Regions from separate parts of the Homo sapiens genome. Here all the other regions are linked to region 2. The links come from fine-mapping of genetic effects on gene expression. A gene starts in region 2. Each other region holds a variant in brackets. All regions are shown on one strand. Distances are between the middles of the regions.

Region 1 (2,683 bases), 150 kb after region 2:
CAGGTCCCGAGTAAATGTACAAAATAAAAAGAGTGCTAAAATTTTTACCTAACAGTTTTTTTGTTAGTGATAGAACACTGTTTTGTGAGACATCTGAGAGCCATCACTACAGCTTAACTCACTAGAAAAACCTAATAACCATTCACACATTTTTTTTCTGTGAGAAGACAGAAAGCCGCGTACAAACTCCACGTAAGGGGGTGAGAGCTTGCAAGTTCCCACAGTGGTGGTAGCTTCTAGGTCAGACATTTGTAAGGGACAGTAGTTTCTTTCACCAAATGTGGCTACTGATGTCATACTGTTAAAACTTTTCCCATGTAAGTTCCTATGTACACAACTGACCCAGCTTCGCTTCGTCCCACGGTTTTACCTTGCCCAAGTTGAATAAGAAGTTTTCTCTGTAGAACTTTACTATTTCCACCACAAACATCCACTAGAACCCCTTTAAAACTTCAAAGATGTTTATTTTAGAGACTTGAATAAAGCTTAACAAAAAAAACTAATGCTGTTTCCAAGAGTTGGAAAAATGGGAACAGCGAAGTTTCAAACTGAGTAAGGACCTAGCTTAGTTTCCCAGACACGACCATGAAATCCTAGTGATACACAGGATTCTGCCACATACCCGCTGGAGCAAGGCCACAGGGTAATTCCGGCTCCCGTGCTTGCTCCTCCCCTTCTTGGTCTGACACACCATTCTCAACAGGTCCTGAGTTCTCCTTCATGCTTTCTTCTTCATTTCCATCAATCGATTCCAGCTTTACAGGAGTTCTCAAGGTGGGCTTTTTCTTCTTTTTGGGCTTTGCCTTAGGTTGAGAGAGCCGTTTTTTCTCCAATTCAATACTTTTTTTGCCTACAAGAATCACAATAAAGGACTGACTAAAGTATACATTCTTGGTTAAAAGCACTCTAGGTGGTAAACTCCAATATCTCATTCCTCTTTAATAGCATTTTTACCCATTCCCTTTCTTCTCAATGAACTTTTAGAATTATATTATCACAATATTAACCAAACCCTTTTGAAATTTCATTAAATCATAAACATGATGCCCAATAACACCCAAATATTTTAGTGTGTGTCTTATGAACAGGACATGCTCCGACGTCACCATAGTACAACCATGGAAATCAGGAAATTAACACGATTCACTACTGCCACCTACTCCATACTCTCTATTTAAGTTCTGCCAATTTTACCCAGATGTCCTTTTTTTTTTTTTTTTTTTTTTTTTTGGAGATGGTTTCGCTCTTCTTGCCCCGGCGGGAGTGCAATGGCGAGATCTCAGCTCACCGCAACTTCTGCCTCCCAGGTTCAAGCGATTCTCCTGCTTCAGCCTCCTGAGTAGCTGGGATTACAGGCACGCACAACCACGCCCAGCTAATTTTTGTATTTTCAGTAGAGA[C/T]GGGGTTTCACCATGTTGGTCAGGCTGGTCTCAAACTCCTGACCTCAGGTGATCTGCCTGCCTCGGCCTCCCAAAGTGCTGGGATTACAGGCATGAGCCACCACGCCCGGCCTACCCAGATGTCTTTTATAGCAAAAGGAATCAATCCAGGATCACATGGTACATTTGGTTGCCATGCCTTTCTGGTTCCCTTCAGCCTGGAACAGTTAGTTGCATGGTTTTCCTTTGACTTTCATAATCTGAAACTTCTGAAGATTACAAGACAGTTATTTTGTCCAATTTCCCTCAATTTAGGTCTGCCAGATGTTTTTCATGACTAGATTTAGGGTATGCATCTTTAGCTGGAATGCACATTAGTGCTGCTGTGTTCATGCAGGGCAATCTATGAGGTAGCAGCTAATTTTTATTCGTCCCATTTGGTTTACTTTGATCACCTGATTAAGGGTGTGTCTTGCAAGTTACTCCCTAAAAGGGTATTTCCCCTGTTTAACTACTAAGTATTTGCATCTACTAGTTTTTGTATTCACTGATGTTTCTTGATTAAAAATTGTTACTATGATGACTGCCAAATGGTGAGTTTGTTTTTTCTTTTTTTCTCTTTTTTGAGACAGGTTCTTGCTCTGTTGTCTGGGCTGGAGTGCGGTGGCAGAATCTCCGTTCACGGCAGCCTTACTTGACCTTCCAGGCTCAAGCAATCCTCCTGCCTCAGCCTCTTGAATAGCTGGGACTACAGGTGTGCGACACCATGCCTGGGTAATTTTTGTATTTTTTTTTTTTTTTTTTTTTGTAGAGATGGGGTTTTGTCATGTTGGCCAGGCTGGTATCAAACACCTGGGCTCAAGTGATCAGCTCGCCTCCCAAAGTACTGGGATTACAGGCGTGAGCTACTGTGCCTGGCCCACAAGGTGAACTTCTAATTCCAGGATTTCACTCTACATTCTACCACAAGGAAGAGCTTGGCATCTAGTTGGCATCCTACCACAAGGAAGAGCTTGTGCTTCTCCCCATTTATTTATTATATCGGTCTGGACTCATGAATTCTTCCATTACTGTTACATTTACATTTTTAAGGTTTCTATATTTACATTTTAAGGTTTTTATCCTTTGCTTACTTTAAAATCATCTTTACTGAGGGGTAATATAATAAAATACACCAATTTTTAAATACTTTGGTACAAAGTACCTACCACCACCACAATTACTTTTGTACTAATCTAATATTTCCACCAAGCCTCTTTGTAGTAAGATATACCCCCTGCTTGAGCCCTAGGCAATCACTAATT
Region 2 (2,683 bases):
AGACAATAATTTATTACTTGTTTATTGTCTCTTTCCCCACCTTAGAATAAATTCCATGAGGATAGGGACTTTGTTAGCCTAGTTTATACCAAACCCGTTTCCTAGAACCCTGCAAGGCCCCCACAGTACGAGGTCAGTAAGTATTGAATCGAATGTACACTGAAGTTTGAAACTGCTGTCATACACTGCTCCTTCATTTTACAATAGAGAAACTGAGGCCCACGAAGCTGGAAGTCACTGCTGCAGAGATGGTAAGGGGGCAGGGCCAGGATAAAATCTCAGATCTCAGAAGTCCCAATCCAGGGACGGTTCAACTCCGCCCAAAGCAATTCTTTAGAAAAAAAACGACATCCACTTGAAAGAAAAGACATTTCCTGCCCATAAATACAAGGTTTCGCGGCGGGGAGAAGGGCCTGGCCTGGGTGAGGGCTTTAGTAATTCCGTTCCCACTTCCTAGGCGCCGGCTGCCCGCAAGGGCTAAAGACTCGCTTTCCAGGCCCGGAGTTGAACCCATCTCCGGGTAGTGTCGAGGCCAGGCCCAGCGGCGGCGAGGCGCGGAGCACAACCCACTGAGGTGCGGACGGCTCACCCAACCAAGGTCACCCGGGCGGGGACCGAAGGGGCCAGGCCCGCCGGGCACAGGGGAGGGGGCGGCGTTGGCGCGTCCTCGGGGCGGATGAGGGTCCTCCCTTCGGCCTCCTAGAAGTCAGGAATGACACTAATGGCTCCTTCCCCTGAATCTGACACCCAGCCTAAAGAGCACGAGCAGGCCCGGCAGGCCGCGTGGCCGGGTCCCATGTGCTCCACCTGAGGCCGCTCTCACGCGCTGGCCCTTTAAGATACCTCCCCTCCTCGCCCAGCCTTCTCTCCTATCCCCGTCAGCGCCCCCACCGACAACTCCCGAATTGCATCAGGCACGTGCTCGCCCCCGTCCGGTCTGAGCGTCCCTACCCCCAGCCCGGGAGGTGCTCTGAGGAATCGGAGACGAGGGGCGGGGCGAGGGGCAGGACCGCGTAGCCGTGCGCGCGCCGTCCCGCCGCCTCCTGCCCGCCCGTCGCCCAGGGCCCGGCCAGCGGCGCGCCCCCGCTGCGCCGTCCCCTCCCCTCGCCCGCCGCGTCGTGAGGCGCGCGCCCGCCCGCCGCCTGCCGCGGATCGCGTGGTCTGCTTGGCTCGCCGCGCCTCTCCCCCGTCCGTCCATATTGCTGCAGCCCCCGAGCCGGGAAGCCCGGGCCGCCCCGGGGGCGGGGGGGAGGGAGGGACGGGACTAGAAGCCTGCCGGGCTCGGGGTGGGGGCGTCTTGCGAGGAACGGGCGGGGGGGGACGCACGCCTAGGAGGCCTGGACTGCAGAGTGGGGGGCCTTCCTCCCCCCCCGCCCCGCTAGTGGGCCTCGGATTTACGGCGGCTGCATCTAACTGGGAGGGGGCCGCACCTCGCGTGAACCCCGACCCTTCTCTGCAGGGACTGGGGCCCAGCGCCCCGGAGGAAGGCGTCGCGGGCGCTCTGCTAGCCAAGTTCGAGGCGGGGGAGGCAGCCTCGGGCGCGCCCGGCTTCTCCGGGGGGGCGGGCGCGCAGATGGCCACTCAGGTGGAGCCGCTGCTGCCTGGGGGCGCCACGCTCTTGCAGGCCGAAGAGCACGGGGGGCTGGTGAGGAAGAAGCCGCCGCCGGCGCCCGAGGGCAAGGGCGAGCCCGGGCCAAACGACGTCCGCGGGGGGGAGCCGGACGGCAGCGCTCGGAGACCCCGGCCGCCCTGCGCCAAGCCGCACAAGGAGGGCACCGGGCAGCAGGAGCGCGAGAGCCCGCGGCCGCTGCAGCTGCCCGGCGCCGAAGGCCCGGCCATCAGCGACGGGGAGGAGGGCGGCGGCGAGCCAGGCGCTGGCGGAGGAGCTGCCGGAGCCGCGGGCGCGGGGCGCCGGGACTTCGTGGAAGCCCCCCCGCCCAAGGTGAACCCGTGGACTAAGAACGCATTGCCGCCGGTCCTGACCACCGTGAACGGACAGTCCCCCCCAGGTGGGTCTCCCTCCTTGCCCTCCTGGGTCCGGGGGCCTCTTCCGGGGACATGGGAGTCCCCTCCCCCAGCACCTCCAGGGCCCCGGGGTCTGCTACCGGTCATGGTGACTCGGGACTTTTTAAAATTGCCTCCTGGTTGATCCTGGTCGCCGCGCCCTCCCCCCCACCGTACACTCAGGGACCTGCCCCTGCCCGAGGGCCCGGCCTCCGGGAGGCTACGGCCACCGCCTGGGCCGCAGCGGTTAGTGGGCAACGGTGTGGTTCGGGCCTACCTCGTCGGCAGAGGGTGGGCGCTGGTTTCAGTGAAACGATCCCCACCGCATGCTGGTGTAAGAGACGGTTTCTGGTTTGAACCTTCCTCTGGAAGCCCCTCTTCCCACCCCGCCCGGCGCTCCCCGTTTTGGTAGCGTTGCGAGCGTCCCCATGTTGTAAATGTTTAATGAGCATATGTCACGGGCAACCCAGTGCCCGGCGCGGAGTACATGCTGGCCGCACGGATGCGGGGATTAAAAGTTAACAAGTTTTGTTCTCGGGGAGATGAAATTGGGCTTTAGAATCGCCATTTGGAGACGGGTTGAGGGGTCAGTTGTGGGGAGAAGAAACCCATCGTGTCATCGAATTCGGTGGTTTCCCTCCCCGATCCCGGGCACCTTCCGCCTTAAGAAGGAGCCCGA
Region 3 (2,683 bases), 120 kb after region 2:
TGGATTCTCCCACTTCTCTACTCCATTATTTCTCTACTTTTCCTTCCAGCAAACCTGAAACGTGAGGGAGATGGATTAATGTGAGTAACAGGAATGTGTCTTTAAAAAGCTAGAGTGGTTACATTTAATCAGGCAGTAAGATAATTTGGGTTCTTGAGTTGTTTTGGAGTAATATCCCACAACTGGGGTAGGAAGCTCAGGACTTTTTTCTTTAAAGCTAGTCATTTCAAAAGCATATTGTATTTTTTTGAATGACTACAGTATGGACAATTTCAAAAACCAAAACCCACTTTGGATTGGTGGAAGTAAAAACTGGTAACTCACTCAAGTGAATGAATGGTCTTGCATTTTAAAAGCTTATGGGAAACTCAATTTGAAATGATTAGAAAATGTCAAGTATTATAAGCTGGTATTTAAGATGCTTGTAAATACTATTTATGTTTTTAATTTTGTAAAATAAAGATTTCTTTTTAACCACTGGCATTAAGGTTTGGTCTTTCATAGCTATGGATTGCTGGCTCTGGAAGATGGTCATTTGCCATCAGTGAAATAAGAGCATCTTGCCTCCATTGTCCCCAAGTTGGCTTACATACAAAATATCACTTGGGGGGTGGGTTCGGGAATAAAAAAAATACATATCACTTGGTAGGAAGCTTTTCACGAGCACCTGTGTAAATGGAATTGTCTCTTCATACTCAAGATTGTTGGGTCTTAATATTATAGAATTAAACCAGTCTAATATTTCCTGGGGTCACTCCACTATATATGGTGGATTAGCTTGTTAATTAGTGGGATTCTTTTAAACAACCTGAACTTCAGATATCCTAGAGTTGGCTCAAGACTTTGTTTCCAGCCATTTCTGTTGACACAAAATATGTGGGGTTTTAAGAAGTCTGGTACAGGGGCAGATATGGAATTGTGACTGGGAAGTTGACAAAACAAGAGATTTATCACTGTAATTTCTGGTGAAACAGCAGTCAGTGGTTCTCAACCAGGGTGCCCTGGCATGCTGGTGACTGTGAGCGCTATGCAGATACCCTTCCAAATTTGAATTAAAGCAGGACATTTAATATTTTCTACAATTAAGGACTTACTTACATGTCAGGAGAAATGCTCAAAGGGTTGAGGAACTCAGTGTTGAGTGTGGGGTTTGGTCATCATTGCATGTGAGAGTTAAGAGCTTAGAGTAGTGCTTTAGCAAGAAAGAGCACAAGTCTTGGAACTGGCAAGAACTTTGTGTGTATGAGTGCATATAGGTCTATGTGAATGCTCATCCTCAAAAAGTGATGGCACTGTAGGGTAACCAAGAGAATCACTTAAGGTGTAATTCTTTCGAGGTTTAGACAGGGTCTCACTCGGTCATCCA[G/A]GCTGGAGTGCAGTGGCATGATCTTAGCTCACTGCACCCTCACCCTCCTGAGTAGCTGGGACTACAGGTGCATGCTACCATGTCCAGCTAATGTTTATATTTTTTTAGTAGAGATGGGGTTTCACCATGTTGGGCAAGCTGGTCTCAAACTCCTGACCTCAAGTGATTTGCCTGCCTTGGCCTCCCAAAGTGCTTACAGTCATGAGCCACCGTGCTGGCTTGTAATTCTTTTTTTTTTTTTTTTTTTTTTTTTTTTTGAGACAGAGTCTTGTTCTGTCGCCCAGGCTGGAGTGCAGTGGCATGATCTTGGCTCACTGCAACCTCCGCCTCCCAGGTTCAAGCAATTCTCCTGCCTCAGCCTCCCAAATAGCTGGTGCCAGAAACAGTCAGTTCCTCTTCAAACTTCTTTGTTTCTTTTAGCGACTAATGTCATTTCACATTGCTAGAAGATACATTCTTGTTCTCTAAACAAGCCTTTCCATCTTTGCCATGCCTAAACATGCCCAAACATGCCTTAACGGACAATCCCTCCCTCCCCTCCTTTCTTTTCTTTACAAGTTACGCATTTAGGCTGGGCACAGTGGCTCACGCTTGTAATCCCAGCACTTTGGGAGGCCAAGGCGGGTGGATCATGAGGTCAGGAGATTGAGACCATCCTGGCTAACACAGTGAAACCCTGTCTCTACTAAAAACACAAAAAATTAGCCGGGCATGGTGGTGGGCACCTGTAGTCCCAGCTACTTGGGAGGCTGAGGCAGGAGAATGGCGTGAACCCAGGAGGTGGAGGTTGCAGTGACCCAAGATCGCGCCACTGCACTCCAGCCTGGGCAACAGAGACAGTCTCAAAAAAAACAAAAAACAAAACAAAAAAAAAACAACAAGTTACGCATTTAAATGTTTCAGTTTACTCTGTTTGGAAAAGTTTTACCACTCCTACCCCTTCTTCCCCATCTACCCTATTTGGAAAAATTTCAAGTTTTAGCCAATCGGGTTAGCTTACATTGTGTGGTCCGACTACAGCCAATGGGGAAAGGACACAGAAACAGAAGCTGCATTAGGGATAAAAACTTTTCTCCTTTGTTCAGTGTGCTCTTGCGATCATGACTGTTGCAGGCAGCACCCTTCTCAGAAGTAAATTTGCCTTGCTGAGAAGTCTTTTGAGAGCTCATTTTCTTTGCAACTCCGAGCTCTTATTTCCAACTATTTGGGGGCTCATCTGGCATCCCATTCTCCTCTAGGGAAGGGTCTCTGATCACCTCTCATGAGGAGATGCGTCCTGCTGCCTCATTGCAATGGCCTCAGGAATAAGGAATCAAG
Region 4 (2,683 bases), 110 kb after region 2:
TTTAGTAAAGACGGGGTTTCACCATCTTGGCCAGGCTTGTCTTTAACTCCTGACCCTCGTGATCCACCCACTCTGGTCTCCCAAAGTGCTGGGATTACATACAGTTGTGAGCCACCGCACCCGACCTATTTACTTCATAAGAATATAACTTGAGCTTTGCCAAAGCTTTATGTTCCCTGAGGGCATCTAAAACGCCAGTTCATGGAACAGGCACTTCTTTCTCCCACTCCTTTCCATTTATGCTGTAGTTTTCATGGATTTCTGCTCAGTGTCACAGACGGTGGCCAAGAGGCTATCCAAGCCTTGTTCTGCCAGAAGTAGGTCTGGAGGCTGGTCCTCTTCTGGGCTTCCTACGCCACTTGAGTGCTGCAGCTACTGGGATTCCAGGGCTGTGGCTTCCTTGGCCTGGACCACTTCCTCCCTCTGCAGGTGGTACTGTTAAGTTTCATCCTTAGCTGCTCCTTTGATCTACTTCAGCCTCTGGGTCTTTTGCTCATGGGCCTTGGATACCTTCTCAGTGGCACATTTCTCAGCCTGCAGCAGCTGCTGGATCCCCTGAGACTCACTGGCCATGGTGGCGGTGTCTGAGTCTGAGGCAAGCAGCCTGAATCAGCTGGAAGGCGCGTCAGGTCATCTTAGCTGGCTGCCCACCATCTGTGCCTCAATATTTTTTTGTTGGTTTATTTTTTTTTTTTGAGATAGAGTTTCGCTCCTGTTGCCCAGGCTGGAGTGTGATGGCGCTTTCTCAGCTCACTGCAACCTCTGCCTCCCAGGTTCAAGCGATTCTCCAACCTCAGCATCCTGAGTAGCTGGGATTACAGGCATGTGCCACCACGCCCTGCTAATTTTGTATTTTTAGTAGAGATGGGGTTTCTCCATGTTGGTCAGGCTGGTCTCGAACTCCCGACCTCAGGTGATCCACCCACCTCAGCCTCCCAAAGTGCTGGGATTACAGGCGTGAGCCACCCCACCCGGCCTTGTTGGTTTTTTTTTTTTTTTTTTTAAGTTTATTTATTTTTTTGAGACAGAGTCTTGTTCTGTCTCCTAGGCTGGAGTACAGTGGCGCCATCTTGGCTCACTGCAGCCTTTGCCTCCTGGGTTCAAGTGATTCTCATGCCTCAACTTCCTGAGTAGCTGGGATTCAGGGGCATGCCACCACGTCCGGCTAATTTTTGTTTTTTTGT[GT/G]TTTTTTTTTTTTTTTTGAGAGGGAGTCTCGCTCTGTCATCAGGCTGGAGCGCAGTGGCGCGAGCTTGGCTCACTACAACCTCTGCCTCCCAGATTCAAGTGAGTCTGCTGCCTCAGGCTCCCAAGTAGCTGGGATTACAGGCGTGCGCCACCACGCCCAGCTAATTTTTGTGTTTTTAGTAGAGAGAGGGTTTCACCACGTTGGCCAGGATGGTCTTGATCTCTTGACCTCGTGATCCGCCCACCTTGGCCTCCCAAATTTCTGGGATTACAGGCATGAGCCACCACGCCTGGCCTAATTTTTGTATTTTTGGTAGAGACAGGGTTTCACCATGTTGGCCAGGCTGGTTTGAACTCTGGGCCTCAAGTGATCTGCCTGTCTCAGCCTCCCAAAGTGCTGGTATTACAGGTGTGAGCCACCATGCCCGGCCTACTTATTTTATTTTTGAGACAGGATCTTGCTCTGTCACCTAGACTAGAGTGCAGTGGTGTGAGTCCCCTCCAGTTCTTGGCCTCAAACAATCCTCTCACCTCAGCCTCCGGAGTAGTTAGAACTACAGGTGCATACCACCATGCCTGGCTAATCTTTGTTTGTGTGTGTGTGTGTGTGTTGTTTTTTTTTTGTTTGTTTTGTTTTTTTTGAGACGGAGTCTCACTCTGTCACCCAGGCTGGTCTGGAACTCCTGGTCTGAAGTGATCTTCCTGCCTTGGCCTTCCAGAGTGCTGGGATTACAGGCGTGCACCACTGTGCCTGGTGTTATTGGTTTTTTTTTTTTTTTAAATAATGAGCAAATGTATACCTATTATAATTAGGAAATTTAGTTTATGGAGGAAAATCTCATTTTTCTATCTGTCACAGAAATATGATCTACTTTGCATGCTTGTTTGAATGTTGGAAAGAGTGAATTGATCTATTAAGTTAGGAAAAGCATTTCAAAAATACTTGTACTATAATTATAAGGTGGTGGTAATAGTGTGGCCACTACTTCTGTTTCATTATTCACCAGTTAATAAATAAACACCTTGTTTTTTAGAGAGGACATGTACTCCCAGGATTCCATAGATCTCCTTGCTAACTCAGGACTACAGTTTCAGAAGCATGAAGAGGAAGGGATTGACACACTGCACTTTGCAGAGCTGCTTATGACATCAGGAGTGGTTCTCTGTGACAATGTCAAATGGCTTTCATTTCATAGGTCAGTCCTAGGGAATGTGTATTTCTCTCTCACTTTGGGCTACACTGAAGCAGGGAATTGAATTCTTAGTCATTTTTGCAGTCCTAGTGACTGTTCTGTTCAGCAGCAGCAGCCAGAAGTTGAATTGGTGCTTGTTGCCCATGTTTCAGTTTTTCACAAAACACTGGGGCTCATATACTGGTTTGTTTCACACAGTATTTGGCTCTATCATGTGGCTATCAGTGGGTTTAATTCCAAGTGGGAATATGGTGGGTGTAGAGGGTCACAGTACTTGGTTATCTTTTAAATGGCTGTCTCGGAGT

Alleles and levels. Alleles are on the strand shown, and positions count from the first base shown. SD is a standard deviation of normalised expression in the study named. Not every link is listed here.
For the expression in skeletal muscle of the gene that starts at base 1,193 in region 2, G is the low allele of the variant in region 4 and GT is the other (moderate effect, 0.44 SD a copy in FUSION).

What was found. PIP is the estimated chance that this variant, and not a neighbour inherited with it, causes the effect. A credible set is the group of variants that fine-mapping cannot tell apart.
Region 1: its variant is the best candidate, but not a certain one, in a credible set for the expression of LARP1 in whole blood (TOPMed, PIP 0.87).
Region 3: its variant is the best candidate, but not a certain one, in a credible set for the expression of LARP1 in T cells (TOPMed, PIP 0.69).
Region 4: its variant is the best candidate, but not a certain one, in a credible set for the expression of LARP1 in skeletal muscle (FUSION, PIP 0.53).

Annotation. Positions count from the first base shown.
Region 1 is chr5:154,906,969-154,909,651 of GRCh38, forward strand. It overlaps GEMIN5 (gem nuclear organelle associated protein 5), which reads right to left. Exons shown (of 28, transcript NM_015465.5): 16 at 623-850. Among named protein-coding and RNA genes, the nearest start is that of GEMIN5, 30 kb to the right of the region's middle. RefSeq lists an enhancer at 1,369-1,868. The variant C/T (reference allele first, on the strand shown) is at 1,401.
Region 2 is chr5:154,754,185-154,756,867 of GRCh38, forward strand. It overlaps LARP1 (La ribonucleoprotein 1, translational regulator), which reads left to right and starts at 1,193. Exons shown (of 19, transcript NM_033551.3): 1 at 1,193-2,009. The coding sequence starts at 1,574. LOC112267936 (a long non-coding RNA gene) reads right to left here and starts at 836. Exons shown (of 2, transcript XR_002956231.2): 1 at 1-836. RefSeq lists silencers at 571-720, 971-1,310, 1,351-1,760, 1,801-1,880, 2,161-2,270.
Region 3 is chr5:154,876,310-154,878,992 of GRCh38, forward strand. CNOT8 (CCR4-NOT transcription complex subunit 8) reads left to right here. Exons shown (of 7, transcript NM_001301073.2): 7 at 1-483. It overlaps LOC124901119 (a long non-coding RNA gene), which reads left to right and starts at 2,450. Exons shown (of 2, transcript XR_007059011.1): 1 at 2,450-2,683. The variant G/A (reference allele first, on the strand shown) is at 1,367.
Region 4 is chr5:154,868,442-154,871,124 of GRCh38, forward strand. It overlaps CNOT8 (CCR4-NOT transcription complex subunit 8), which reads left to right. Exons shown (of 7, transcript NM_001301073.2): 4 at 2,220-2,381. Among named protein-coding and RNA genes, the nearest start is that of CNOT8, 11 kb to the left of the region's middle. The variant GT/G (reference allele first, on the strand shown) is at 1,185.